4 linked regions of the Homo sapiens genome follow. The protein of the gene in region 3 purifies or fractionates together with the protein of the main gene of each other region. This does not show direct contact. Each region holds a gene or a part of one and is shown on either strand. Other genes may lie near its edges.

Evidence for each region.
Region 1: the proteins of SERPINA12 (region 3) and PTPRG purify together in Homo sapiens (co-immunoprecipitation; 3 studies listed by BioGRID and IntAct, with this or other methods). This does not show direct contact.
Region 2: the proteins of SERPINA12 (region 3) and ITGA2 purify together in Homo sapiens (affinity purification with mass spectrometry; 2 studies listed by BioGRID and IntAct, with this or other methods). This does not show direct contact.
Region 4: the proteins of SERPINA12 (region 3) and WDR75 purify together in Homo sapiens (co-immunoprecipitation; 3 studies listed by BioGRID and IntAct, with this or other methods). This does not show direct contact.

Annotation. Positions count from the first base shown.
Region 1 is NC_000003.12:62,292,571-62,298,109, reverse strand, and holds the end of PTPRG (receptor-type tyrosine-protein phosphatase gamma isoform 1 precursor), read right to left. Parts: intron 5,497-5,539; exon of another isoform or gene 5,393-5,496; intron 4,950-5,392; coding exon 4,803-4,949; 3' UTR 501-4,802; downstream 1-500.
Region 2 is NC_000005.10:52,984,558-52,992,391, forward strand, and holds the start of ITGA2 (integrin alpha-2 precursor), read left to right. Parts: upstream 1-4,794; 5' UTR 4,795-4,911; coding exon 4,912-4,975; intron 4,976-5,532; exon of another isoform or gene 5,533-5,729; intron 5,730-7,834. UniProt on the Homo sapiens protein: Integrin alpha-2/beta-1 is a receptor for laminin, collagen, collagen C-propeptides, fibronectin and E-cadherin. It recognizes the proline-hydroxylated sequence G-F-P-G-E-R in collagen.
Region 3 is NC_000014.9:94,499,470-94,506,469, reverse strand, and holds part of SERPINA12 (serpin A12 precursor), read left to right. Parts: intron 1-2,247; exon of another isoform or gene 2,248-2,437; intron 2,438-7,000. UniProt on the Homo sapiens protein: Adipokine that modulates insulin action by specifically inhibiting its target protease KLK7 in white adipose tissues.
Region 4 is NC_000002.12:189,458,423-189,465,482, reverse strand, and holds part of WDR75 (WD repeat-containing protein 75), read right to left. Parts: intron 6,731-7,060; coding exon 6,611-6,730; intron 6,148-6,610; coding exon 6,059-6,147; intron 3,000-6,058; coding exon 2,841-2,999; intron 1,790-2,840; coding exon 1,730-1,789; intron 1,638-1,729; coding exon 1,522-1,637; intron 405-1,521; coding exon 229-404; intron 1-228. UniProt on the Homo sapiens protein: Ribosome biogenesis factor. Part of the small subunit (SSU) processome, first precursor of the small eukaryotic ribosomal subunit.

The sequences.
Region 1 (5,539 bases), on a different chromosome or scaffold from region 3:
ACAGAATGGTAGGCCAAAGCTGCCAAGTTTGGGACTTGTATACCTGTTTGGAAATGTCAAAAGTTCTTGTTAAGTAGAAGCAATTGTACTGATCTTACACATATAGATTCTCCAGAACTCTTGCCAGGATATATCCTTCATCCTACCTCGTAAATATTAAGAGAGTTGTTACAAACCTAGTTGATACACTAGAGAAAATAGTAATTCTGTTCACAACTTAGCAGCAGAGTCATAAACTGAATAAAGTTTGATTCCTTAGATGAGCAGGTAAAACTGTCATTGTTTACTCTTTAAAGGAGAAAGAACGTTGATAAATCAACCCAGCAAAGACCATTCTTTTTGGTTTGCTGCCTGTGTAAAGACGACTACCAATGTTCATTTTACTACCATGAAAACTTAGACCAGAGGGTTGGTGGGTATTAATGTGATCTGTTAAGGGAGACTAGTAACCTATTTTATTGGATATAGACATTTTCATAGAAATGCTCAACACTACTGAATACATCAAAAACCATACTTTATTTTATGTATAGCAATACAATTTACATATTAAATAACACTATAATAGAATGATTTGATATAGTTTAAACAGAAGAAAAAGGGAAAAATTTCAGGTTACAAAACCCCTCCCCCTGAACAAATTTAAAAAAAAAAAAAAAGCACACTTTTTCCAAATGGGTCAATGTGACGAATGTTTTCAGTGACTAATTATGTCTAATTCCTATTGCACAAATGGTCAATGGAATTAAAAAGAAAACCCAACTTTCACAATCACTGCCTCAAAGAAATAACACATGTTGGATTCTTTTGGAATGTAAAGATGGTTTTTGCTACTTCAATACACAGAAAGTTGAATTCACATATCCACCACAAAAAGGAAAAAAAACTATGACGGAGTTGAAACTAGAAAAAAATTAGCTTTATATGAAAATATAAAATTCTATGATTATATACCATAGATACAAAGTTCCCAGAAGATGCTTACCCAAGCAACAAAATATTTACAGTTTTAATGATTTTTAGCTATTTCAAAATGGAGTGAAAGAAACATGAGTCAATGTGAAGCCAGAATTCTTTAGAAACAATGGCTGCTTGCTAGTTTCAAATGTCCTAACAAAAAAGGAGTCACTACCCCAAATGTTGGAGAGTTGCGACATTTTATAAAATCGACTTTCTCCTTTTCTGGAGATGTTTATTTCTTAAAACTCAAGATATTTTTCTTGAAATTAATTATCCTCTGTAGAAAATGCTTCCCTTTGCAAATATTTAACAAAAATACTAAAAACAGTTTAACAGCTAAGACAAAGTAGAGGCCAAATATCATTATTACAATTCCTTCCTATTTGTAGCATGCCTTCTTCTTTCTAGAGATAAGTAAAGCCAGTATTGTATGTTAAATGACAACTAAGGGAAAGCGCAAAGGGTTAAGTGAAATTACATCTGTTAAAAAAAAAAAAAAAGCAGGCATTTTCCCTTCATATAAAAATTCACTGGCACCATTTGAACATAAACTTTAGAACATAGGAGTTGAAAATGCATTTCCAGTATAACCACTAAATTCTTAAGACAAACTACATTTTGATTCTTAAATTATGATGAGTTGGGTTTTTTTTTTAGTTTTGCTTAGAATTAGTAATATGTATCTTTGGTAAATTGGTATCTATATTTTAATTTTAAATACAGTATATATGCATTTAAGAAAAATTCATAACAAGGCAGTTGTGCTGTGTCATTATAAAATAATTATTTACTGATTTCAGTATGTCACTCTGGGCTAAAAACTCCAACAACCAGAACTTGAACACCGTAACCCTTCTTTGGCCTCGCTGGACTCTTCTACTTGAATAGACTAAAAACTCTAAAGGCATAAAAATTAGGAAGACCAATTAGCTAATCTTACTCTTTTTGAAATTCAGAAATTAACTTTTTTCATATTAAAGAAGATATCTTGGCTATCGCATATAAGAAAGAGTTCTCCTGATGGCAACAGCATGTCTTTTCTTTGATGTCCAGCACAGCCACTTGGTCTGATCATTGCAATTTATTTTTATATGATGTGTGCATTTTGCTTACCTAGAGCTAAATTCATATACACAAACAGCTTATTTTATTAAGTTGCACACATTAATTTGCAATAGCTATTTCCTTTCCCCTGAGTGCAAGTGTTAATAACCTTGTTATGTACTTAAGCAATGTGCTTATGTCTCAAAGAAAACCCTGTCTTTGAAACTCTGCCTCTGGAAAGATGCAAGCTATGTTTTTGCCAATAACACATGAATAATAATAGTGAGGATATGCTGTCTCTTGCAGGGGTGAGGACCTGCTAAATATAACTGTCCTCATTGAAGTGTGTTTGGACTACTTTGGCAAGATGGGCAAGTAGCAATTGCTTATAATTCAGTGGGTCAGGATATGAAGACTTTGGTTCAAGCTCGCTGAAGACACACAGATTGCTCACAGGGAACTTCTAAACTCTTTCTTTTATTGTTTCTATCCTATTTACTAGCTGTTTTTTCGTGATTCTGAAACCACTGTAAGGGACAGCCACAGAATTGCATTGGAGGGTATGCCTTTCTACGAATTGAGCCCTCTATAAATAGCACAGGAGGGAATACTTGCTATTTGTCTTTGAACCAGTGTTTACTTTTATTAAGAAAAAATTACTGAGAAAGGGACCATGAACCCTAACTCGAACATTACTTTTGAACATCAAGCCCACTTTGCCATCTACTAAAAAGTGTTAACTCATATCAATACTCTATACATCTAAAACAACCCACTTAATTGACTAAAAAAAGAGTCTAGCTCATTGCTTTCCTGATTCTCCTCAGCATCTGGCAGTTGTAGTGTTCCTGTGTTCAAGCTTTACTTGAACTTTACAGAGCTTCCTGTGTCACCTCTGGTTGGAGCGGAGGGGCTGTAAAGGTGTCTCTCATCTAGCACATGCAACTTAGCATGCTCTCTTGAACATCTTATCTCAGGACTAGCTTACGCAGCTCTTGAAAAGCAGAGTATTCCATGTTGTTAAATCTATGTATTGAGAAGATGAGATAAACCCTGGTAAATTATGTAGTTTATGAAAACTCCATTGACCTGGCCTTTGCATTCAAATTCTTTAACTTGGCCCATAGCTTCTTTCTCCTTAGCACTTCTGGTCCTCCAGCACCATTCTGACAAACTTTATGAAAGCCAAATCAAGATAAATAGAACCTCAGTGCTGATCATCATTAATGTTTAATGCATACCCAGATGGCATGACAGCAGCCAGCGTGGCCTTTTTGTTGAAGTTAATTGACATAAAAAGTAAATAAAACCCTATTCTTCCTAACAGGCCCAGTTCTGGTGATGATTTCACTTTTGACAGAAGCTGTCCCTCAAAAGCAAACATGCAATAGAAGAAACAGATCTCAGTAAGTAGCTTATTTTCCTTACAAACACTACTGAAATTTCTTATTAATGCTCCTAATTTTCCCATTATGCACTGCAGCGTGAGTATGGCTCCAGAGGCTGCACCTAATAACTTCCTTGAGCTCTAATGATTATTGGTATCTTTTACTAATGTGTATCTGTTCTAAACTACACAAAAGCATACAAAGCCATCTCCCTCTTTTAAAAACTTGAAAATGTGGGTATCACCTTTAATTAAATATTTTAAATTTCTCTCTCCAAATCAGATTTATCTATGTGTGGGAGTTTAGATAGTCCCAAGACTTTTGCTAAGACAGTATTTCCAATTTAATCTTAAGTAGAAAAATGTATGTAATTAAGAGATTTATTATAAAACATTTGGCAAAGAAGGAAAGAAAACAGTAACTATGTAGGTAGTTTTTATTAGATTGCTATAGGAGTAATAGGGAATTTTTAGAGGACTAGTTTCAAAATTACACACCTGCAGAAGTTTTCATTCTTCTACCTACTGTGAGGTATGGTATTACAAACTAAGAAGCATTAATGGAGAATAACTAAAGGGTCTCATAACTGAGTTGTATATAATATTGCTATCTTGCTATTGTTAAAGATAGCCCTGATTTTAGGATGTAGCTATTTTAGAGAGTCAAAATGGAAATAACACATTGTCCACATAGCTACTGTGAAAGCTGTAATACAGAGTTATCCTTTATTTTGACACATTTTTAAAAAACTGTGAATATAACTTTGTAACTAATAAGGGATGTTCACATGAAGCAGTTCTTAAGCCTTCTAACTTCTTAAGGGATCTCTTAACCAGCATAAATGGAACTGTTTCAAGGCCATGACATTAACAGACCTTTTTAGGTCCCAGTAGCCTGCTAGTCTGTAAAAGAAAACAATGCTATCCACTCCATTAAAATACAGAAGGCATACAGTATTGAACAGTGCCTAAAATAAAAAGGAGAGGAGGACTGAAGAAAAGTACAGCATTGCCTGCTAGTAGAATGCAACCACTTCAGCAATAATAATAATAAAAGCAATATTCACTGTCATAACAAAGACCTTCACTGTATTGAACTAAAAAAAAGTAGCATGTATGTCGTCATGGAATGTCACATCAGGGTTTGCTGTTGTATAAGATTATAGGCAGTAACACTGATCATATAGTGCAAACTAGGTAAAATTGCGTTTCACTGTGTGAAATGAACAGAGGTGCAAATGCTCAGTAGGATACCATTAAGACATAAAATGGCAAAAAATAAATATCAAAACTTTTATCAGTGTAAAAAAGTAACTGGGTTATTGTATAACCTAGAGTCTGGCAAAAAAGGCCTCAAAAAAGTTCTCAGTCTTCAGAAGTTTACAAATTAAGTGCCCTTTCAGGATTCCAGTCACACTAGGGACTCCATGCTCTCAGCAGGGTCTGATTCATCTGCAATAAGAACAGCACCATTTTTGTCTACTGTCATGGGACCATTTCCATTTTCTTTAGTGCTGACCAAGCTAAGCATTGCTTTATAGATGAACTGGTATTGTTCCTGAAAAACAAGAGGAAGACAGTTTGAGCCAAAGAACAGTTTAGTGATTTCACATAAGGTGGAAATACCAATTAAAATGGTAATTGTGAAAAACACACTAGAGAAACAGCAATAGCATAAATGTTATCTAAAAAAACTAAAAAAAAAATCATTTGAATTTATTATAGTCAAGACCTATACCTTCTTCATGTCCTTTTGATCTCTGTTAGCTTGGAACCAATTCTCAGTGCTGATTGTTAATGAACAATCATTATTGGTTAATGAAGATAACCAATATCTGGTTAATATCTGGTTAATGAAGATAACCAGAGAATACTATCCTCTAAAGCAGGGCTTCTCAACCTGAGCACTACTGACATTTTGGGCCACATAATTCTATGGTGTTGAGGGCTGTCTTGTGCTGTGTAGTTTGCTTAGCAGCATCTCTGGCTTGTATCCTCTAGATGCCATCCATCTGCAGTTGTGACAAGCAAAAAAGTCTCCAGACATGGCCAAATGTCCCCTGGGGGGCAAAATCACCCCCAATTGAGAACTACTGCTCTAAACTGTGAGTCTGAGTTTCAACTGATGTAGTACAGGTTTTACACATA
Region 2 (7,834 bases), on a different chromosome or scaffold from region 3:
AGGACTAGAAACCTGCTCAAATTAGCTTCAGAGAAAAAGAGAAACTATTATTAGGTTGGTCCAAAAATAATTGTGGGTTTTGCCACTGAAAGTAATAGAATGATACACAGATATTTCATGGATGTAAACCCAGGAAGAACAGTCAGATCTCACACAATGGCAAACAAAATTAAAAGACCTAGAACAATCTCTCTCCGTGTCTCTCTCTTTCTCTGTCTGTCTGTCTCATGCATGCACACCTCAGTTTCTTGGTCTCTCATATCTGTCTCTGTTTTTGATAAATGGTGCAGATTGGCTTTTTCTACACTCATTGAAGAAAATGAATGGGCTGGGCATAATTCCAACACTTTGGGAAGGTGGGGCAGGAGGATTGCTTGAGGCCAAGAGTTCCAGACCAGCCTTGGCAACACAGTGAGACCCCATCTCTATAAAAAGAAAAATTAAAAAATTAGACAGGTGTGGTGGTGCATGCCTGCCCAGCTACTCGGGAGGCTGAGGTAGCAGGATCACTTGAGCCCAGGAGTTTGAGGCTGAAACGAACTATGAATACCACTGCACTCTAGCCTAGGCAGCACAAAGCCCCATCTCAAAAAAAAAAAAAAAAAAAAAAAGGCGGGGGGGAAAAAAGAAAGAAAATGGTTGTACAAAGTGAACACAAATTTCCATTTCATGTGATCAGCAAAGATTCTAGAATCTGTATACCATGAATGTAAATCCCTAGGAGATTGATCGAGCTTGGTCAGGTGTTTGGCTTAGCGACAAGGAGGCAGGATTATGTGACTCAGTGACTTCTAGAAGGGGATCATGGAAGACTCTGAGAAAGCCCTATTGGCAGAGCTGGCAAATAGCTTTGCATGTCTGCCACAAGCATGAAAACAAGTAAGGCCAGTCAACCGTAGTTGTGCTAGAATCGAAATATGAATATGATTCATCAGTGTATTGATGGGTCCAGGAAGCTAGGAAATCTAGAATTATTTTATTTGTTTTGTTTGTGTTTAAGTTAGGAGTGTCTCTTTTATTTTGGCCATTATGCACCCCAGCCAGTGCTTAGAGACTTGTGTGTGAGTCAAGCTCAATGGATTCTAAGCTTTACTCACTCATCCCATGGATTCACTGAGTAACATTTGAGAAGCCACTGGTTACTTCACTTCAAAATTACTAGGACTTACCTAGAAGTTCATATTTACCACCCTTTTCAGGTCTAGGGAGAAGAATGTGGAATTGTTAGGAAACTCATTTCAATGTATTATAATAACTATTAATATTTATTAGAAATTTATTTACTAGGTATAGGACTAGACTCTTATAACAAAAATGTATAAGATTTCAGAGACCCAGCATTTAAATGAGAAGGTAGAATATACACATATAACTCAATAATATATTACTCTGTAATACATACAAAAGAAAGTTTATTTGGGGGAAAAAACAAAAACAAAAAAAAAAAGCTAGAGGAAACCAGAGCCAAGAAAGAAGAATGATTAGTTCTCAGTGAAGAAAATGGGAAAGGCTGGGCTAATAATATAGAATTTGACTGGAGCCTTGAAGTAGAATTTGAAACAATGGAAGAAAAAAAGAAAGCTATTCTAAGTAGAAAAATAAGGAATTGACAATGAAGAATGGGAAAGGCAGGCCAGTGAACTCGTGAATTTGGCCTAAACATAGTGTGCAAGAGGGAAAGATAGCCACGGAGCCCACAGAGGTGAGTTGGAGCCAAATCGTGACCTTAAACCCTAGGGTACTTTGAATGTCCTGAAGACATCTAATGATTTTCAGCAGATCAGTCCTGCATTTTTGGATAACTGTGACAACAGGTATAAAAGATGAACTGGAACAGGAGAGAAGGAAGCACAGAGAGATTATATGGGAGTTTGTCACCATGGTGAAAGATCAAAAGGGTTTGAACCAAAGAGAGATTAGCAGTGGAACAGAAAATAGGAGATGGCACAGAAAACCCTAGTAGGGTGTAAAGACAGAATTGGAATGGGATGTTAGCAGGGGGCTGGTGGTGCACCTGGGGAAGAAAGCAGAGGTTTCTGGTTTGGGTGATTGTCTATATGAAAACGGGATAAACAAAGGAGGGCAGGGCATGACGATACAACAGATCAGAAGGAAACACTGGGGAAACTTATCTGAGCCGTGTTCCCCAACAAAACTCTGTCTTGAGCTAAGGAAAAGAAAAAGAGGGGAAGGCCTCACTTCACCCCTGAGTGCTTTTTGGAGTAGGGTCTCTGGGTCTCTCAAGATCCTTTCAAGTGGCCAGTGAAGTCAAAACTATTTTCATAACAATACTGAGACGTTACTGCGTTTTTCACTGTGTTGACATTTGCCCTCATGGTGCAAGAACAAGGATGGGGACTGGTGGTCATTGTATTCTTCATCACTGGGCACTCACAGGAAGAGAAAGGGAGAGGGACACGGAGAGGCCAGCAGATCAATGAATTTTAATGCCACGGAATAGGAAAAACCATTGATATGGTTTCAGATTCCACATTGCAACTTTAAGAAACTACCACTTGTTGAGTTTTGGTGTAGTATCAGGGGATTATCCAGAATTATCTCCTGTTTTTCTAAGTCCATATCTGTGTAACACCAGATTAATCAATATAATTTCACCAAAACTACATGCCGTAACAGATTGGATGCAGAAGCAGATCTGAGAATCCAAATGTCTGTTTTTAAGCCAGATATTTAAAATATTAGCAAAAATGTAAAGCAATGCCACTCTTCTCCCGGATTCTTTCATTTGGAGAAATATAGTTATTTTTCATAAAATGTACATTATTTATGTTCACACATAATAGGATTTTTGTTAAAGGACTTACTGAGTAAAGGGCTCTTGAGACCAAAGAGTTTGAGAAGCCCCAGCTTAACCTTCCATATTTCCTGCTCTGAATGTGGTGTCCCTCACAACTGCAACTAGGCAGGAGAGCACCCTGGAAGGGGTTCTCAAACTACTTTGTCTCAGGAACACTTTATCCTCTTAAAATTAATGTGAGGCAGGAGTTTGTTCTTTGTTTCTAAAAGTTTTGCCTGGCTCTGGAAAATCGTAGCTCCTGACTTATTCTGCACTTCATGACAGTGTAATGTTAATTTGTCCAGTTCTGAGAACAAAAACCAAGAAGGATGCATGTTATTTCCCCCCACCCCCAGAGATAAAACACAAATTCCTGTCTCACATTAAAGGAAGTGTCCTGCCTCCCAAACACAGGTCTGTTCCAAACACTTACTCACATTTCAGTGAGTCAGAAGGAAACAGACAGATATTCATCTCCCTGAAACCTGGCTGACTTCCTTCAAAAAGTCTGTAAGGAGCGTCAAAATCGTGTCACCGGTTAGTGAGCAGCCACCTAAGAGCTCTCAGGTGATAGCCGGAGTTTTAGTAAGCAGGTGAGTACCCCAGACAATTCAGAAAAAAATGCCTTCAGGTGTTTGTCAAGGTGAGTAAGTGCAGCCAGTAAGTGACTGATAAGAAAACAGGAAAGAGCCTGGGACTATATAATTTGGGTTCAAAGGGTATTAGTCATAAGCCATCAGCAGCAACATCTGATGCATACCAATTTAATACTTTAACAATGTGACACATCAGCCCTATCTATAGTAAAGAGAAGAGCTTGATTTTTATGAATTATTAAGTCCTTCCCACCTTGAGCCACTTTGCTTCCTAGAGGCAGTATCTCAGGCATCCCATTCAGCTCATAGTAGCATTCCATGAAGATCTGGAATGATGACAATAATGATGATTATTAGACTCATAACTCCTTAAGCTTGATTTATGAAAACAGTTCGTTCCTTCACAAAAGTAGTCACTGGAAGAATTCTGGTTTCAGCAATGTGCTGGAAATTTGTGGCCAAACTTTTGGATAAAACATAAGATTCAGACAAGAAAAATTAATATCCTATTTCTTAGGTTTTTAACTAAAAATCTCGGATATAGAATGTTCTCTTTCCAGATGTGAGACTGAAATAATGGAAGAAAATGGTCACAGTCTATGTCATGGTGTAATGTAGACAGGGAGAGTCACAAGTGCATGTATGGGCTCTCAGCCTTTTCTCTGGCCTTGAAGTTAATCTCCTAAACTCAGTCATTAAATCAGCTCTTAATTATCTCGGAGGAGAGGAAGTAATGATGATTTCTCTCTCTCTGTCTCTCTGTCACACACACACACACACACACAGCTCTTGCAGCAGGTATTGCTTAAATATCACCTTGGATAATCATAACTTGTGAGCAGATCTTCTTTCCTGATGAGTTAGTTTCTAACCTGGTCATTCTGCGCTTATTTTTGTCCCTTTCTCCACCCACTTAGGAAAAACAGAGAAAGGGACGCACCGCGCAGCCCCTAGGCACTGTGGTTTAGGGCTAGTGCCCTCGGCACCCGCTGCCAGGAGCCGGGCGCTGCCAAGGGCTGCGGAGGGGCCACGTTCTCCCGGGGACTGGGGCATCTCCTGCGTGCTGGCGACAGGCTGCGGGGGCGGAGTGGTGCCAGGGCGGGCGCTCGCCCGTCGGATATGCCCACCCGTCCCGTCCAGGGCAGGAAAGCCTGCCAGGGCGCCATCCCCATCCCCACCGCCTCCAGGCTGCCGGGGCTGGGCCGCTGTACGGGAGCCAAGGTGCGGTGCCCCGCGTGTGGACGAGCCGAGGTGCAGCCCGCGGGGCCGCAGGGCCGGGGTGGGGCGGGGCGCGGCCGGAGCAGATCCGGTGTTTGCGGAATCAGGAGGGGCGGGCTGGGGCGGGCCCTCGGCGCTGCAGGAGCTGCCCAGAAACTTTTCCCTGCTCTCACCGGGCGGGGGAGAGAAGCCCTCTGGACAGCTTCTAGAGTGTGCAGGTTCTCGTATCCCTCGGCCAAGGGTATCCTCTGCAAACCTCTGCAAACCCAGCGCAACTACGGTCCCCCGGTCAGACCCAGGATGGGGCCAGAACGGACAGGGGCCGCGCCGCTGCCGCTGCTGCTGGTGTTAGCGCTCAGTCAAGGTAAGCGGGGATTTCGCTCTGCATCGGCTGCAGGAGGGACCCGCGCGGCTTCCTGGGGCTCGCTGGAGGGATTGGGCGGAACTAGGGAGCGAGCTCCGTGTGTTCCCTCGGATTCCACGTGGACTCGGGCTCCCAGCCACCAGGACCTGCTTGGAAAGAGATACTTCTTCGTTCCCTTCCTGCTATCCCAGGCCTTGCGTCCCCATTAGGCGCGTCTCGCCCTGTCTGTTAAGCACCCTCCAAAGTCATCTCAGTGAGTGCTTTGTTTTAGGTACACACACGCACACACACACACACACACACAGACAGACACGCACGCACTCAAGCATGGACAGTGTGGGGATCCGCGGGTGTCCTGGAGACCGCGAGTCCTGCAGCCCAACTTCCCCTGGCTCAGACAGGTGCCGCGCCTGCCAGAGACCAGGGAAATCCGGAATCCATTGCTGATGGCGGCCTGCAGCTCCCCAGCGCGGTGCTTGCTGGCTTTGCAGAAGCCTGCGAGCCCCAAAATGCTTATTTTTCAACCCAAGGATGTGAATAATGCCTCTATTTCTTACTTGAGGACGAAGCGCTGTGTTTCTTCCCGGGGGGACTTGGAATAAACCAAGCGCCACTTAAATACTTGGCAGAGGGGAATTCTTCCTTCCCTTCTGCCTTCCTCTTATTGTTGTAACATTGTCTATTCGACGAATGTAAACTTAGGCTAGGAAAAGTTCTTTTCACTTCTGGATCCTAGATGCCGCAATGAGAGAATAAGCCGGAGCAGCCGCTCTAACTGTAGTGCTGTGGCAGTGGGGCCCGCCCACCTCCTGAGTTCTTTTACACTAAGAGGAGGAAATAAGGCTGGGGTGGAGAGCTTTTGTGGGACCATCGCCTGAGTACTTTTTCCCTGACCATTAGGCAGAGCTAGAGTGTGGTCAAATTTAAGAATTTTAGTTTATTTGGAGGGAGAAGGAGACACGTTTGTATAATGTAGTTTGAACAGCGATCAAAACAAAACAAAAAAGTTGTCTCTGATTTTAAAGTGTGTGTGTGGTTTTTTTTTTTTTTTTTTACAAAGAAGATAAATATTTCCTAAGCTGTCCTCCTTTGAGACTGACATTCAGCCACTTGCTATTCTTTATTGTGGAGGAATGAATCCTAGTCCACGTCAACCTGGTGGCATTTTCTCCAGGTCAGAGATAAGAGAGAAATAGCACCACTGTCCCCAGCCCGAGCAGAGAATGGGCATCTTAGGTTTTCTGTCTCACCTGTATTGGGTGCTTCAGATACTTTCTCCGGGAACCAGATGAGTTGTTTTGAGGGGCCACCAACCCTAATCTACGGATTTCAGGTAAAGTTGTACTTGACATTGAAAATGAGTCTCTGGAATACAACTAGAGCTAATAGAAATATAAACCCAAGCTTTTCATCTCTCTGTAATTACCCAGTATTAAAATAAGCTGTGGAAACATAACATCATTTTCTTATCTTTGAAATGTTGAGGCTTGTTATGTAAAGAGCAGTGAGAAATTCTTTAATGGAATGTAACGCTGCAAGGCATGAAGTCAGGAACAGAGACTTAACCTGGAGTTAATAAGGACACCTCAGGGCAAGCAAGCAGAGATGATCGAAAATAACATCTGCAAAAGTTTTGTGCATTTATTCCCTCCTCCTACTCCAGCCATTTGTATACTCAAGGAACAGGTTTTCTCTTAATTTAAGATCCTCATAAGAAAGCTCTCTCATTTGTGATATCACTTGAGGTTCCTGGAGAAGCAGCATCGTTTTTTGGTACCATGAGTATCCCAGGTTAACATGAATAAGTGAAATCTCTAGCTCAGTAGTATCTAAAATTTTGTATGGCATTACCCTATCTGTATAAAATTTCTCATTCACTATCATTACACACACACACACACATAACTGTTATAAAATTATAGTATGTACAATTGCATCATATCACATACAAAAATTCAAATTTAAAAGCTATGTATGTGACAGAGCTTCATTATGATGATCTTAAATTAAGAGAAAACCTGTTCCTTGAGTATACAATATGCCGTGTTATGTATATACAATTGTATATACATATATATACCTGTTAATATGTATAAAACACATGTGTGTTTAGACATCTTGTATCATCTCTAGCATACATGCAAACCACTTTAAAAACATATCACCTTCAAATCTTATTTTAACACTTACATTCAAATTTGCTTTCCAGAAACCTTTTCACAGGTGCTTAAGAAGAAAATGTACTCATAGTTTAGTCCTATATTTATCACCTTTCAGTGCTCATTTCTAAGTGCTTAATACCATGAAAATGGTAAATGGGCAGTCTGAGGATGAAAAAGAGAGAACATAAGAGGCCTAGATAATCTATAAACTAAATATAGGCCATTAGCAGAAGGCAAATGTAATTTTGAAATGAAGGCCATCACGTATTTTCTCCAGTATGTTCACAGGTCAAGGATAGTCCTTCCACCCAGGTTCTAGACCACATCTTTTCTTACTATCCCTGAAACCCTGCCCCAGCACTCATCCCTCTTCAGTGCACGTCTTCAAATTCTCTCCCTAATGTAACTTCCCCTCAGTCTGTAAATATTCTAATTTTTCTTATTGTAAAAAAAATATTTCTTTTGATATTTAATTTCCTCCTGAAACATCCTGTACTTCTGGCTTCTGTTCTCTTCCTGTTTTTCTCCTCCTTTCCTCGCTGCTCTCCCGTCATCTCCTTCACAGGCTCTTTCCTTGTTGGTGTTTGCAGAGTTTCATCCTGAATCCTCCTCTTCATTCTGCAGATTGTCTCTGGGCCCATTCCCTGCACAGGTCCCTATCTCCAGCCAGCCTCCCCTTCTGAGTTCCAGATCAGTA
Region 3 (7,000 bases):
TATGACACAGTCCAGAGCACCCCAGCTAGGATCAGGTGCCTCTTGTGTGTTCTCACCTCCCAGAGTTACCTCTACCTTGGCCCTTACCTAGTGTGACTTGTATCTCTGTGTTCTGTGTTCCCATCAGACCAGAGCTCTTGGAGTTAGGGTGTGGCATGGTCACTAACATGTTTCTTCCATCTGGGAGATCCAAAGAGTGAGGATGAGGACCAGAAATTCCTAGCTCCCCTCTCACCCCTACACATGGCAATAATGTAAAAAATATTCAGGCCACCCCTCAGCCTCCGACCAGTGCCTTAGGCCCATTAACTTATAACAATAATCTTCCCAGGCTGGACAATCTCCTTCATCCTTCTAGCCCCTGATGAACACCAGGCACAAATCCATGGGACCTGAATCTTAACTACAGGCAGTCGGGGCAGCCTCAAGTCTAGGCTGAGGTCCCTTAATGGGCACGTGAAGGGGGCTGCTCCCTCCCATGCCTATATCCTTCACTGCTCTCCACAGACGTGCACCTCCTCCGGGGCTCTTTTCCCCAGGCAGGACAGGCAACTCCCAACCCAGGTGTAGCGCCTGGCTGGCCGGCAGCCCACCTGTGGCTACCCTCTGCCCATGGCCTACTGGCCTCTGGCACTGTCTGAACTCAGGCATCCCCAGTGCTGCCCGTGTCGCTCAGTGGGCATCCCTACCCTGGCCTCTTCCTGCATGTCTCCCGTGGAAATTTACCCTGGAGCAGAGAGTGTCTGGGGCAGGCAGGGAGGCATGGCCCTCAGACTCACACAGGCCTCACCCTGTCATTAGAGGGCAGGTTTTCCCTCCCAAACCAGATGTACAGACCTGGATTCTGGGTCAGTGTCCACCTCACTGGCTCTGATCTTCCACCACTATAGCCTCTACAGTCACAATAGGACCACCTGTACTCCTTGGTCTCAGCCTGTCCTTCTGTCTCCTCTGCAACCCCTTGGTGACCAGAGCCGGCCAGTGTGAAGTCTCTCATCTCGCCGTTCACATGGTGTCTTTGACCCATGCATCCCAGCAGGCAGGCCTTGCTGCCTGGGCGAGGGAAGGTGGTGGCTCAGGGGCATCTTCAGGGGTGGTTTCTGATCTGGGCAGCTCTGGAACCCATATCCCCATGTCCTTGTTCATCTAGGCCCTGAGTGCATAGAGTCTGTGGCTGAACCAGGCCTGGGAATGAACTAGTGTCTCCTCTTTCCAAGAAGGTTTGTCTGGGTCACCTGCTCTGAATAGCTCTGGGAATGAGAGTCATGTCTTTGCTAAAAGCAGCAACCCAAAGGAAGGGAAAACAACACCCATGGCTCTTCCGAGGCCTCCGAGGTGTTTCGATCAGATACGACCTACTGTGAAACACCACTCAATGGGGAAGAAATATGTGAATGTTTTTTCTGCTCACTGGAGCTCATTAGATTAAGCAGAATTGAAGATAGGCATGTTGAGCTTATTGCTCTTCCATCCCAGCATCAGTGGGTTTGGAATGTTCCCAGACATCTTCAATGCTTCTCTCTCCAAGTGGTAAAACTGAAGATAAGAATTTTATTTTATTTTATTTTAAGCCTTTGAAAAATTAATCCTAAAGTAATATCTGTTTTTTAAAGACAATTTGGAAAATATAGAAAAGTAAGGGGGAGGCAGAGACAACAGAGTTCAGCCATAGTCTCATCACCCCAGCACAAGAGAACCCAACCATAGTCTCACCACTCCAGCACAACAAATGTGCAATAGGAAAACAATTTGTAATTTCCATGATCATGAACTTTGAGGTGAATTTTTAATTCCTGTTCTTCCTAACGGAATCTACGCATTTAGTTGTCTATTTGTCTGTCCTCGAACTTTTTCCCCAAAGGACTCCATGTGAGCTAAGCTAATTTGGAACACATGAAAAAATAGCAAAAGAAAATGGTGAGGGATACATGGGAATGACCCCAAGAAGCCCAGTTATCAACCTGTTCCCATGGGCAGCAATGATGATACTTGGGTTGAATATTCAGTATTAGGACTCTAGGCTCATCTACTTGTAGACTATTCTGGCTTCCATACCCAGAGAGCAACTGGGAAATAGAGTCGTTGCAAAAGGTGTCTAGTGGACTTCATTAGGGAAGCCACAGCCCAGTGGGTGTGGCCGGTACGATATCATGCCGCTGCCTCCACAGGGAGAGCTCCCAGGGAGGTGGTGTGGCCATTGCTTCCAAAGCCTCCATCACCTGCCCATACACGCCAGCTCATTGTATTGGCCTTACTCTTCCAAGAGGCCATGGAAGTATAAATAATAAAGCAAGAAAGGCAGATGCATTTGGCTGGCTCAGTGGACTTCTGAATGTACTGTGAGTATGAGACCTTCCCTTCCAAAAGATCCGGTGCTTCTTGTCTATTCCACACGAAGCTTGCTTCAGATCGAGGGAGGATGTAGCACTGTCCACAGGTGGGTGTATGAAAGGAAAATTCTAGAGGATCTCCAAAATCCAGGTAAACCCCTCTTGAAGAATTTGTTGAACATCTTTGGCAGAGTGTTATGGATGTCTACTGCCCAGTGCTTTTCTAGAGAGAGAAGCTTCATGAATGTGGGGATGGGAGAAGTCTTGGGACATAAGTGGTGCCTCCAATTTGGGTCCACCCCTGCTGCATGATGCTGGCCACAGTCATCCTTGTGTGTGAGCTGTTTGTGAATCTTTATCTCTCTCTGAGGATAGAGGCTGGATCCATCAACTCACTGGTTCATGGAGAAAGTGAGGCGAAGCAGCCTGTTCAATGCATTTCTGCAGAATTGCCTTCACCACTGATGCACACTGCAACCACAATCTCTTCCTTTGTCCACTCTGGGCCTCATTTCCCTCTTTATGGCACAGATAGTCCTGAAGTCAATGATCTCTCAGCCTTTCCAACCCACATACCCCTCCTCCTAGAATGCAGTCACGGAAGGGGAGGAGGACCAGGTCAGGCAAACAGCTGGAAGGTTCTTGAGGGTTTGGAGAAGGCTGTGGGGCTTGTTGGGCTGAGAGTCAGTCTGCAGCATCAATATGGACCATTTCCTGGGCATTGCTCTAGTGCCCCAGTGCCTGACACAGAGTGAGGACTCAAACATATTTCTTAAGGAATGAAGGCAGAAATCTACAGGGCAAATTAACAAGTGGAATGGGGACATGTTCTCCACTCTTTGTTTTCCAGAAAGGAGGAGAAAGTATATTGCTGTGGTCATCAGAGTTTGTTTATGGGGCTTCTCTTACTTCTAACAGGGGAGAGAAGATATGTCTTACCACCACTTAGTTCTAAATGTGCTTTTAAAAATAATAATTTAATTTCTGATGTATATAGAGTGATTTCTTCTTAAAGCAATATCAGTCCTTTAAAACAGGTGAGCCACAGAGCAGGCCTGAAGTGGCTCTTCAAGTGCAGGGCTCTTGTGAGGGTCTTCTGTTGGGAGGCCAAGGCACACCTTTAGCAAGGATTCCTCAGATTTCTCAGCCCAAAGAAGGGCACCGGGTTTACCCAAGTGCTGCACATTCCAAGAGGCGCTCAGAAAAGGTTCTGAGGAAAGGTGGCATCTCAGAGGGCCTGGGGTTCCTGGGGCAGGAAGGGGTTTCTGGGGCAGGAAGGGGTGTCTGGTGCATGCAGCCAAGTGTAGGAAGCATCTCCCCGATGAGGAGGCAACACACTGGTTGCCTGAAGCTCGCTCTGTTGGTTCTCAAGACATGGGAACTTGTCCAAAGCATTCTAAACTTTTTGGTCTCATTGGCTTGAGGAAGGATATTACATCAACTCTTTCTAGCCAGTCAGTTTCATCCCAGGGAAGAGAGGTAGGGTGGTCAACTATCAGGAGAGGAGTGACCTGCCTGGGGGCAGGGGGAGTTCTCTCTAAAGAAAACTGTGGTTCCAAACCACTGTGCACTGAGTAGACCTTCTGTAGCCTGTGTGTGTTATCCCTGTTTAGGTATCATTTCTTCAAACTGTGGTGATAACGGGGGAAGCGCTTTGTAAAATTAGAAATATTATTATTGTTGAGTCTGCTGTCACAGCTCACTGTTGCTTCAGTTGGCTGATCGGGACGGTGTGGGAGGTGGAAGCAGTGCCCTCCCACAGGGAAACCCCTTCTCGTGTAGACTTAAGCCGCCTATGCTACCTGTGCGGACGCTTCCCATCTGGTTTGGATCTGTCTTTAGGATGAATGACTTCCGGGTCAGTGAGGCACTATTTTATCTAGTCATAAGAGGAGGAAATTATTTTTCCAAATTAATAGGGAACATGGGAGCAGGATGATCAGAGAATTGAAATACTGACTATAGCTTCATGTGTCCCATGTGTACCCCATGGGGTTCGGTTTCTATCTTGTTCTTTTTTTTTTCTTGGTTTTGTTTTAGTTTTATCTCTTTATTTATTTTGAGTCACAGCCAAACACACACAGATACACACACACACACACACACACACACACATTCCAAACTAAAAGCCAACAAACAATTGCTCAACTCAGGAGAGCAACCTATCAATTGATTGGGAAATAACCAGTTGCTCAGCTATTTTAATTGATGGAATTAAAAAATTAGCCTACTCAGGCATCTAACCCAACTGACAAATTTGGGTCAGTTTAAAGCCCGTGATGACAGATGGAAAGGCCCGGAATGGGGCTGGTGTTGGCTGTTTGGGGGAGAAAGGCCAGATGTTCGCACTCAGGGAGCCAGGGCAGGAGGCCCGGTGGAGACTGCTGTGACACAGGCATGCTGAGGTGGGAGGGTGCTGAGACCCCACCAGGCCAGGGTGTGGGCTGTGTCCCTTGGGGCGGGGGTGGGGGGGCGGGGAGGTGGTGGCAGTGCCACCTGATCAGCAGTATCTCATGGGGGAAGAAACCAAATTATCACCACCTCCCCCTCATTTAATAGATGAAGATACTGAAAGCCTGAAGGGTGAAGAGACTTGCATCAAAACACCTAACAAACACACAAGTTGGGGAGGACCGCTATCCAGACCTGGAATTCCATAATCCGTTCTTGTTTCTGAAACTTGACAATGTTTAGGGATCAGTGACTGAACATCACTGTAAAGCTGTGCGTGCCACAGAGTGTTCCCAGGATGGTGCTTTCTGTGGGTTCCTTCCCTGCTCCAGCCCTGCCCTGCCCGGCCTCCTCCAAGGCTCCTGCCAGGCTGCTGGTTTCACCGCTGCTGAGAATGTTTTCTCAGCTCAAGGGACATGTCTTAACTTCTCCACTCCTAGGCACTGGGAACTTGCGCCCACTCTGAATAGCAGAAGCTTCTATTTTTAATCCAGGCAGCCTTTGTAAACAGTGCAGCCCCCTAAACCCTGAAATGGACTCCTTCCTATTTTCTTTTGTTTATCTGAAGCATTCTTGGGAATTTTACTAATTTCTCTTCTACAATCTGTTTTCAGCAGCCCATAGAGCCCTTGTTCATCACCAGCTGTTATTAAGTTTTACCAAGAAGTGGTTTTTGGGGGTAGAAGGTGCTTAGAGAGCACCCAGGTTCAGAGAGGGAAGTGCTTTCTGGAATGTCACACAGCTACGAAGGCATGAGAGCAGAGCACAGAACTCCTGCCTACTTAGTAGTCCTGGCGTTTTAAAAAATATGTATCTGCCCGTATTTGTGAGGATGTTTTTGGCTTCAAGGAAGTGACCATGTAACTCAACGTCACTGGGGGTCCAGAGGCAAGGTGGGCTCTGGGTTCAGCTTTTTCCATGGACCCAGCCCCGGTTTCTCTTAAGAGCCCTTGGATGCATCCTCTTTGTGCTATGGCTTTGTCTTAGAGTCACTTCCCTCACGGGGCAAAGTTGCTGTTAGTCCCTGCCTGCCGTGCCTTCCTGCCCAGGACATCCCAGGAAAGAGACAGGCCAGCACCCCAACATTCCAACAAACAGTCTTGAAATCCTCCCTCATTGCACCCCTTAAGCCACATGCCCCTCCCTAAACAAGGATCAGGGCAGAAATTCCCGCCTGCACTGATTGGATTAGGTCTGGCTCCTGAACCAACCAGTAGCAGGAGAGTTGAGATGCCCCTGCACCAATCAGGCCCTCCCTTGGAGCTGGGAGGGGCTTGTGTCCCTGAGGCACATGGGCTGCCTGAGAGAAGAGTATATTATTGAAAAGAAGAAAAAGAAAGAGAAGATGAGGAGAAGAGGATAAGAGGAGAAGAAGGCGAGGAGGGGAAGAGGAGAAGAAAGAAGAAGAGGATCTATTGGGAAGCTGGGAGAATGGATGCTGAAGGAGCAATGAGCAGTATTCACTAGAATTTTCCAATACTATACTACAAACTCCTTGAAGACCTTTGTTGTGATCAAGGCTCTATCCACAGTGCTTGGCGTAGAAGGATTTGGACATGAAGAACCTGGGAACTGGGGACACTCCTAGGTACAGGCCCTGCCTGGTGTTCATTCATCTGCTTATTCAGCCAACCAGAAAGAGCCAGGCATGGGAGTTTAGCTGTGCAGACCCCGTTGGTGGCTGACCCAGTTCCCTTTTGCTGGTGCTGCTGTGAGGGTTGCCTGCTGACAGCTCACAACTGCCCTCCCCTCTCCAGAAAATTGTCCTTGGCTGATAAGACCTAACTGACCCAGTTATGCACCATGACCTGCATCCAGAGGACAGATCACAGCCACCAACTGACCGATTCTATCCAAAAGGCCAGCCTGGAGAGCCCTCCCACTGTGGACCAGGCCAAGGCTAGATGTCACCTTGGCTCCTTCCCTTTTCCATCCCACTTCCCTCACTTCCCTACAGGGAAGACAACTGCCTCAATACATAACATGCACCTAAATCCCCATCTCAGGTTCTGCTTCTAGGGAACCCAATCTAAGACAACCATGAAAAACCTTTACTGTGGACAGGCTGACTATTACCCACAGATTACAGACATGTAAGATATAAATTACAGGAAGAAAGCAGACTAAATGATATAACAGATGACCAAGCAAAGAAATCTGCCTTCGTTTTACATATAAATGGGTGTGACCATCACTGACAGTAGTATGTCCAACCAGAG
Region 4 (7,060 bases), on a different chromosome or scaffold from region 3:
GTCACTTTTCCATGTTTCTTTATTCATTATGAGATGACATTATGACTTAGAGGACATCAATGTCTTCTCAGAGCAGAAAGCTTAAAGGTTTTATTAGAATAAAACCTCTCCCATATCTCTAAATCTAAACCTTGTCAAGATGAAACATCTTAAAGACAATTGAAACTGTAAAATGGGAAGTGAAATATTTTATACTTTGAAATTAAGTGGCTACACAGATAGTATTACCCTTGTGTTTTCTTATTATACATCCACAGTTTCATTTGCAATTCAAGCTCAGTTTCCTTTTCTTGCCGCTGTTCCACTGTTGCAAGCCAGTTACCAAAGCAGCCAAATGCAGCCTTTGTTAGTTCAATTTGGATCAGACCATAATCATTAATATATTCTTGCTGTATAATATCTAACTGATGAGTAAAAAAAACCAAAAAACCAAAATGTTTATTAACATAAATACACAAATGTTACAGCATTCAAGAAATGATAATTAACTACATCCAAGACAACTTCTGTACTGTATAGTAATAGATTTTTAAATAAAGGCAAAAATGAACTAATTGTTACTATGGACACCAAAATTGCCATTAAAAAAGGGAACACATTATAATAGTATCAATTTGGTGGTAATTATTCTTCAATGACCTTGAATATTAGCGATTACTAACACCCACTATATGATACAACAGAACCGTTAATTTATAGTAGTGCTTTTCTTTTGTTTCTAAGAACAAACAGCTTTACATCATCTCAAGGCTAGATTCTCTGTCAACAGAAACAAGCAGAACAGAAATAAACCTACAATCTTTAAGAAATGAAAAAAGATAGCCAATGTAAGTAGGCCAGCATTTATTTATGGTTGTTTTAAAAAAAATCCCATTTCCTTGCCTATACTAAGTAAATAAAATGCCTACTATTAAGTGTACTAAATGCCTACAATTTACAGGCATTATACTTGAGATAAGCATAAAATGATTAATATGCTTCCTTTTTTTTGAGGGGTCTAAAGGCCACGGTGAGAAAGAGCTAGTGTCACAGTTGCTATGACAGAGATCTGTAAAGAGTACTGTGGGGAACAAGAAAAGTGGGACATCTGGATTGGACTTATCAGGATTGGAAGAAGTGTTCCTCTTTAATCTACACTGAAAATTTTATCTTCAATATGTGAATATGATAGTGTTTCACCACGAAGCAGATACAAATTTGTACTGTCAATCTACCTATTTTTGTTTCTTTATCCTTGTGACTCAAAAGCACAGATGTATGGGATAGCTAATAGGAGGGCATTCTGAAACAAAAGACAGAGACAGCACGTACAGGAGTGCCAACTGGCTTACATGTAACCTGCAACTGTGGCCTCAATGGAATTATGCTCTGAACAACTGAACTAAGTAACCACGGATAATACTATGTTCAAGTAAACATATGCACAGGATCTTGTTTTAAAAGCTACTAAACAAATTGCTTGACTCCAGTGGTACTGTAAAGAGCTTTCATTAATTTCAAGGCTAATGATCAAAATCTTACATTGTATAACTGTTTATCACTCTGGAGAGAATAAAACTGCAGGTGGCCAGGTTTTCCATTCAAAACCAAAGCTTTAGTTCTTGGATCAATCATCAAACCAGTGAAGATACTCCTATCTGCAGAAGTGGTGACAAATAACAGGTGAAATAAGAGAAATATGCACTCTTTAAAATGTTCATGATTCCAAATCCACTGAGTTCTGCAATACCTTTCACTAGGCCTTGAATTACTGCGGATGCTTCAAGGTTTCGGTGAATAATTATTATCTCTGTGGGTAGAAAAAAATAGGTATTTAAATATCAATAGGTTAGAGAAAGCTTGTCCAACCTGTGGCTCAGGGTGGCTTTTTATGCAGCCTAACACAAATTCATAAACTTTCTGAAAACATTATTATTATTATTATTTTTAGCTCATCAGCTATCATTAGTGTTAGTATATTTTATGTCTGGCCCAAGACAATTCTTTTTCCAATGTGGCTCAGGGAAGCCAAAAGATTGGACACCCCTGGGTTAGAGCTTCAAGGTGAAGGAGTCACCTGAGTTTATATTCTGAAATATACCAGAATACAAAACAACCCAGTAAGTTCAATGAACTCAGAGTACTACTAGAAAATCAGGAATACATTTTGTGAGTTAGTGGAAAATCTAGGGGTGGGGATAGGGGCTTTTCTGTTGGAGTCTTTAAGTTTTTATCAGTTGTGCCTATGAACACATTTTAAGTGTTAATGCAAAATCTATAGAGTATATCTAATAAAAATAGTTTAACTTTTTCATGCCACTAAATGGACTGCTCACAGTTATGTTCTTTTTTGAAAGAAAAGGAAGTGGATTTACAAAGATATCCTAGTCTAGGCTGAGTAGTCACTGGATGAACAAAGTTTTGGAGAAATATAAGACTGCCTCTATTTCTATCAAATCTACAGGACTCTTGCCCCCAGGTAACAGCTGTATCAAAAGAGAATCTTGCAGTATTCTTTTGAAAACGGAAGGTTTATGAAAGCACCAATGTCCACTTCCAAACCTTCCCTTTATTTCCTCATGTCATCCCACACTAAAAGACTTTGAAAATGTAAGTGGCACATCAATAACCAAATACACTTAGCCTTCCATTTTATAAAAATAATTCTCAAAAATGTTGAATTCTGGTGGTGCCTAGGGGTAGAGAGGGGTGGAAAAGAGAGGAGTAATGCAAGGAAAAGAAGGCTCATTAAATCTCATACGCTACTCTTAGTTTTAGGTCTCTTTATTCTCTGTTCCCTACAGATGCTAGCTAATTTATGGTGTTTATATATTTCCTCATAATAAAAAATTTAGACTTACTATTATCAGAGTGAGAAGTGCAGAATAAATCTCCTGCAGGCGAGACTGAGATATGTTCAATAGTAGCTCCTAAACGCGGGAGAAACTCCTTATTCTTCTCTGTTGCATCGCGCCACTCTACAAGTACAGATTCACGACCGCCACTCAGCAGACTGGTGCCTTCATATCCATTCAAGGAAATTAAAAGGATGGTGTTTTGAGGAAAAAAGAGAAAGAAAAATATAATTAACACTTTTGTTTTTGCTACCGTACTAGAGAAATAAACTCATTTAAAGCTACAAAAAGTGTCTTCGTATCTTTTAATATACTCTGAAGACAAATGATCACTGGTTCAGGAATTTTTTTTCCAGTGATATCTGATTAGTTTGTTGCTGACCAACTCCTCTGTTGACAACTAGAAAAGCTGGACAAACAAATATCCTTTAGGCCAAGATAGCTTCACTGATAAATTTTTCTAAACATTTAAATACTATACCAAAAATATTATATATATATAAAAAAAAGCCGATTTCACGACAGATGAAAATTCTTAAGCAAAATACTATACCAATGATATATTAAAGGGTATCATGTCATCGCAGTTTACTGCAAGAATGAGATTACCTTAACAGCTGAAAAATAAATTAATGTAACCCCACTTACAGAACAAAAGGAAAACACCATGATTATTTGAATAGATGCAGAAAAAGCAAATGACAGAATTCTATACGTATTCATGATAATACCTCTCAGAAACTCAGGAATGGATGGGACCCTTTGAATCTCATCAAGAGTACCTGGATAACATCTATAGCAAACACCACACTAAAAGTTAAACTATTGAAAACTTTCCCTTTGTGATTAAGAATATTATTACCATTTTGATTCAACGTTAACTGGATGTCTAGTGCACTGAAATGAAACCAGAAAGGCTTAAGGATTGGAAAGAAGGAAATAATCACTTCCATGTTCACAGACAGCATGACTACACCAAGGCATAGCCAAAATAGTTTATAGATAAACTTATGGAATAAGTAAATTTAGCTGATTATAAGAGAAATATATAACAATCAATTTTATTTTTAAATACTAGCAAGTCAATTAGAATATAGAGTAAAACATACTATCAAAAGACCATCAAATGTCTAGTGAAAAATATATATGAGAACCACAGAAAAAAAATCCTAACTCATGGATATAAAGACCTAAAAAGTGGAAAAGTATTTATTATGATTACAAATTAAAATACTCAATACTATAAAAACATCAATTCTCCTCAAATATAGCAACAGCTGTATTGTCAACACGGTAGCCACCAGTCAAATGTGGCCAATTAAATCTAATGGTTTGAAAACTAACAAAAGCCTGCAAAAGACTACCTTAATGACTAAATGGATAAATAGGACACTGTTTCAGACTGTTTTCTCAAAAGTATTCCATCAAATAACCATTTTTCATTCTTTCATGAATCTAAAACAACTGGTTTTAAAGATCACTGGTTTATAATGGGGTTTTTATCAAATTTTCTAAAGCTGCAAGCTGATAAAATCTAGCTAAACAGAAGACTAAAGGTATGTAGTTGTGATGTACACAAACAAAATTAAGAAGTTTAATCTGATATATACACATATATGATACATTGTGCATATAGTTCATATATGCCTCAAGTTATGAAGTTCTCAAAAACAACTAAAATCTGTATTTCTTTTATATTTACGCAGCTATTTTTTCTTTTTCTAATAACTCATACCCACACAGTCAGTAAGGACATTTCACTGACAACTATGTACTGTAACCATTATTTCTCATTTAAAAATATTCATGCTACTTGAAATATAATATCAAGAATTCAAATAATGGCCGGGCACGGTAGCTCACGCCTGTAATCCCAGCACTTTGGGAGGTGGAGGCTGGGGGGATCGCCTGAGGTCAGGAGTTTGAGACCAGCCTGGCAACACGGTGAAACCCCATCTCTACAAAAAATACAAATAATTAGCTGGGCGTGGTGGTGCGTGCCTGTAGTCCCAGCTACTTAGGGGGCTGAGGTGGGAGGACCATTTGAGCCCAGGAAGTCGAGGTTGCAGTGAGCCAAGATGGTGCCACTGCACTCCAGCTTGGGTAACAAAGTGAGACCTTGTCTAAAAAAAAAAAAACCCCTGCCTGGAACATATACAGACACATACATATGGATACCAAGCACTCACTAGTATTTTGAGGGTGTGGAGTGGGAAGGAGGGTAGAGAATACAAATGAGCAGCCTACATTGTCTCCATACACTAGTCATTACTCCCCAAACCATAATCGGGTTGAAGGTGTCTCCTATTTCCTGGGGCTTCCGGGCATTACACCCAAGTAAGACTCTAAGGATACCACAGCATATGGTACCATCTAAGACTTGTCCTGTCAGTCTCCAGGAAGACCTGCAGAAAGAAAAATCACTTTTCCTGGCTTCTCATTTTTTAGGCACACAATCTTCTCTAGTATGTAGTAACTTTCTTAAAGAACCAGTCAAATAAACTGACATAACTCTCACCACATGGGTGTGAGGATGCTAAAAGTAAACAAAGACAAGATGTACTTCCCTGTATTTCTGTTGAAGACCACTTTACTTTAAAGGTATTTTTACTCGCTATAGCTACACTACACAAAGCTGTGACAGAAGTCATGCAGCTTAAATGAAACAATGATGGAGATTAATTTAAAATAGCTAATGTCAAATAAGGCCATGTAACAGTTAAAAACAAGAGCTCTAAAATCAGAACCAGGTCCAAACCCACCTACCCACCATGTCATGTTAGGCAAGTTAATTATCAACTCCAAATCCTACTTCCTTTATCTGTAAAATGAGTATAATGCCACTCATTTCCTACGGCCAATGATTAAATCAGATAATGGATGTAGTGTTAGAATAGTTACTTGCACCTGATAAGCTACAGTTATGGACCACACACACTTAGTTATGTAGACAGATATACCTTCAAAAAGTCATATAATTTAAATAGGTTATTTATGTAAACAACAGAGATTTTTATCACAAATGTACACTTTAGAACTTTGAAGGGCTTCAAAACCTAAAGCATATTGTGCTGAGCAAAGCCCAAAATACAGGGGTAACACACAAGTGTTTGGAATTCATTTGGCTCATGCAGTTTTAAATCTTCCAAACTAAAAATACAGTGAATTAAAACACTTGAATCATATCTTCAAAAGTTCATTTTAATAATTAAACCCGCACTTACCTGTCACTGAAAAAGCCAAATCCATAACCATATCATGGTGCCAATGTAAACATGTGTACGTATATTTCTTATCATCATAAAAATTCCTCCTATTGGAGAAAGATAAAACTCTTATTTTGACCATAGGTTTAAGTTAGGAAAACAATGGCATGCCAAATACAATAAACATAATATATACCAAACATACTAAATCATAATATAAAGGCTTCTGGTCTTAATGTGCACATTTTCTATTTCTAACCAGAGTGACTGACTTCTATAAATAATATGCCATCTGTGGTACCCTCCTAGATATTCACTATTGTCAGTCTTTCCTTTTTGGAGAAAGGCAAACAAAAAGTTTTCTTCAATAAAATGATTACAGGCAACAAAAAATGTTTCACTCACTTTATAAGTCCAAGGCTAGAAATTCTAAAACAGTAAGTATGAAATGAAAAGCACACAAAAAAGGAAAGGGAGGCTGTTTCTTGGGACCCAGAGATAGCCCTGTTCTACAGGACTAACGTAAAATAGTACATAAATGATCGCCATGCTCTTCATGAGCAAACTGACCAAAGACGAATTTTGCCATCCATGTGACCAGATGCGATGCAGTCTTCCGTTGGGTGACATGCTACACATGTAAAATTGTTTTTAGCATGCTTCTTATTTCTTGATGATGATAAAGTAAACCTAGGAGAAAAAAAAAACAAATTCCCTTAATTATTAAAGTCTCTTGATAAGTGGTGATGTAGTTAAGTAAAAGAGAGTTCCCAGCAATAGCAACCAAAATTGTAGAGCTCAGAATTCAATAAATATAACTGCAGGATTTTTTTTAAAAAGAAAATTTTGATCAAGAATCAAGCATTCTATTTTGTAAACATATATCAATATACAACATGAACTTCATGTAACTAATATTCTACCATAATAATTTATCTATGGAAGCCACTGACATTTAAGTAAAGATTTTAGTGATTTTTTTTTGGCCTGGTCAAAGCTTGTTCAAATTTCTCATTGAAC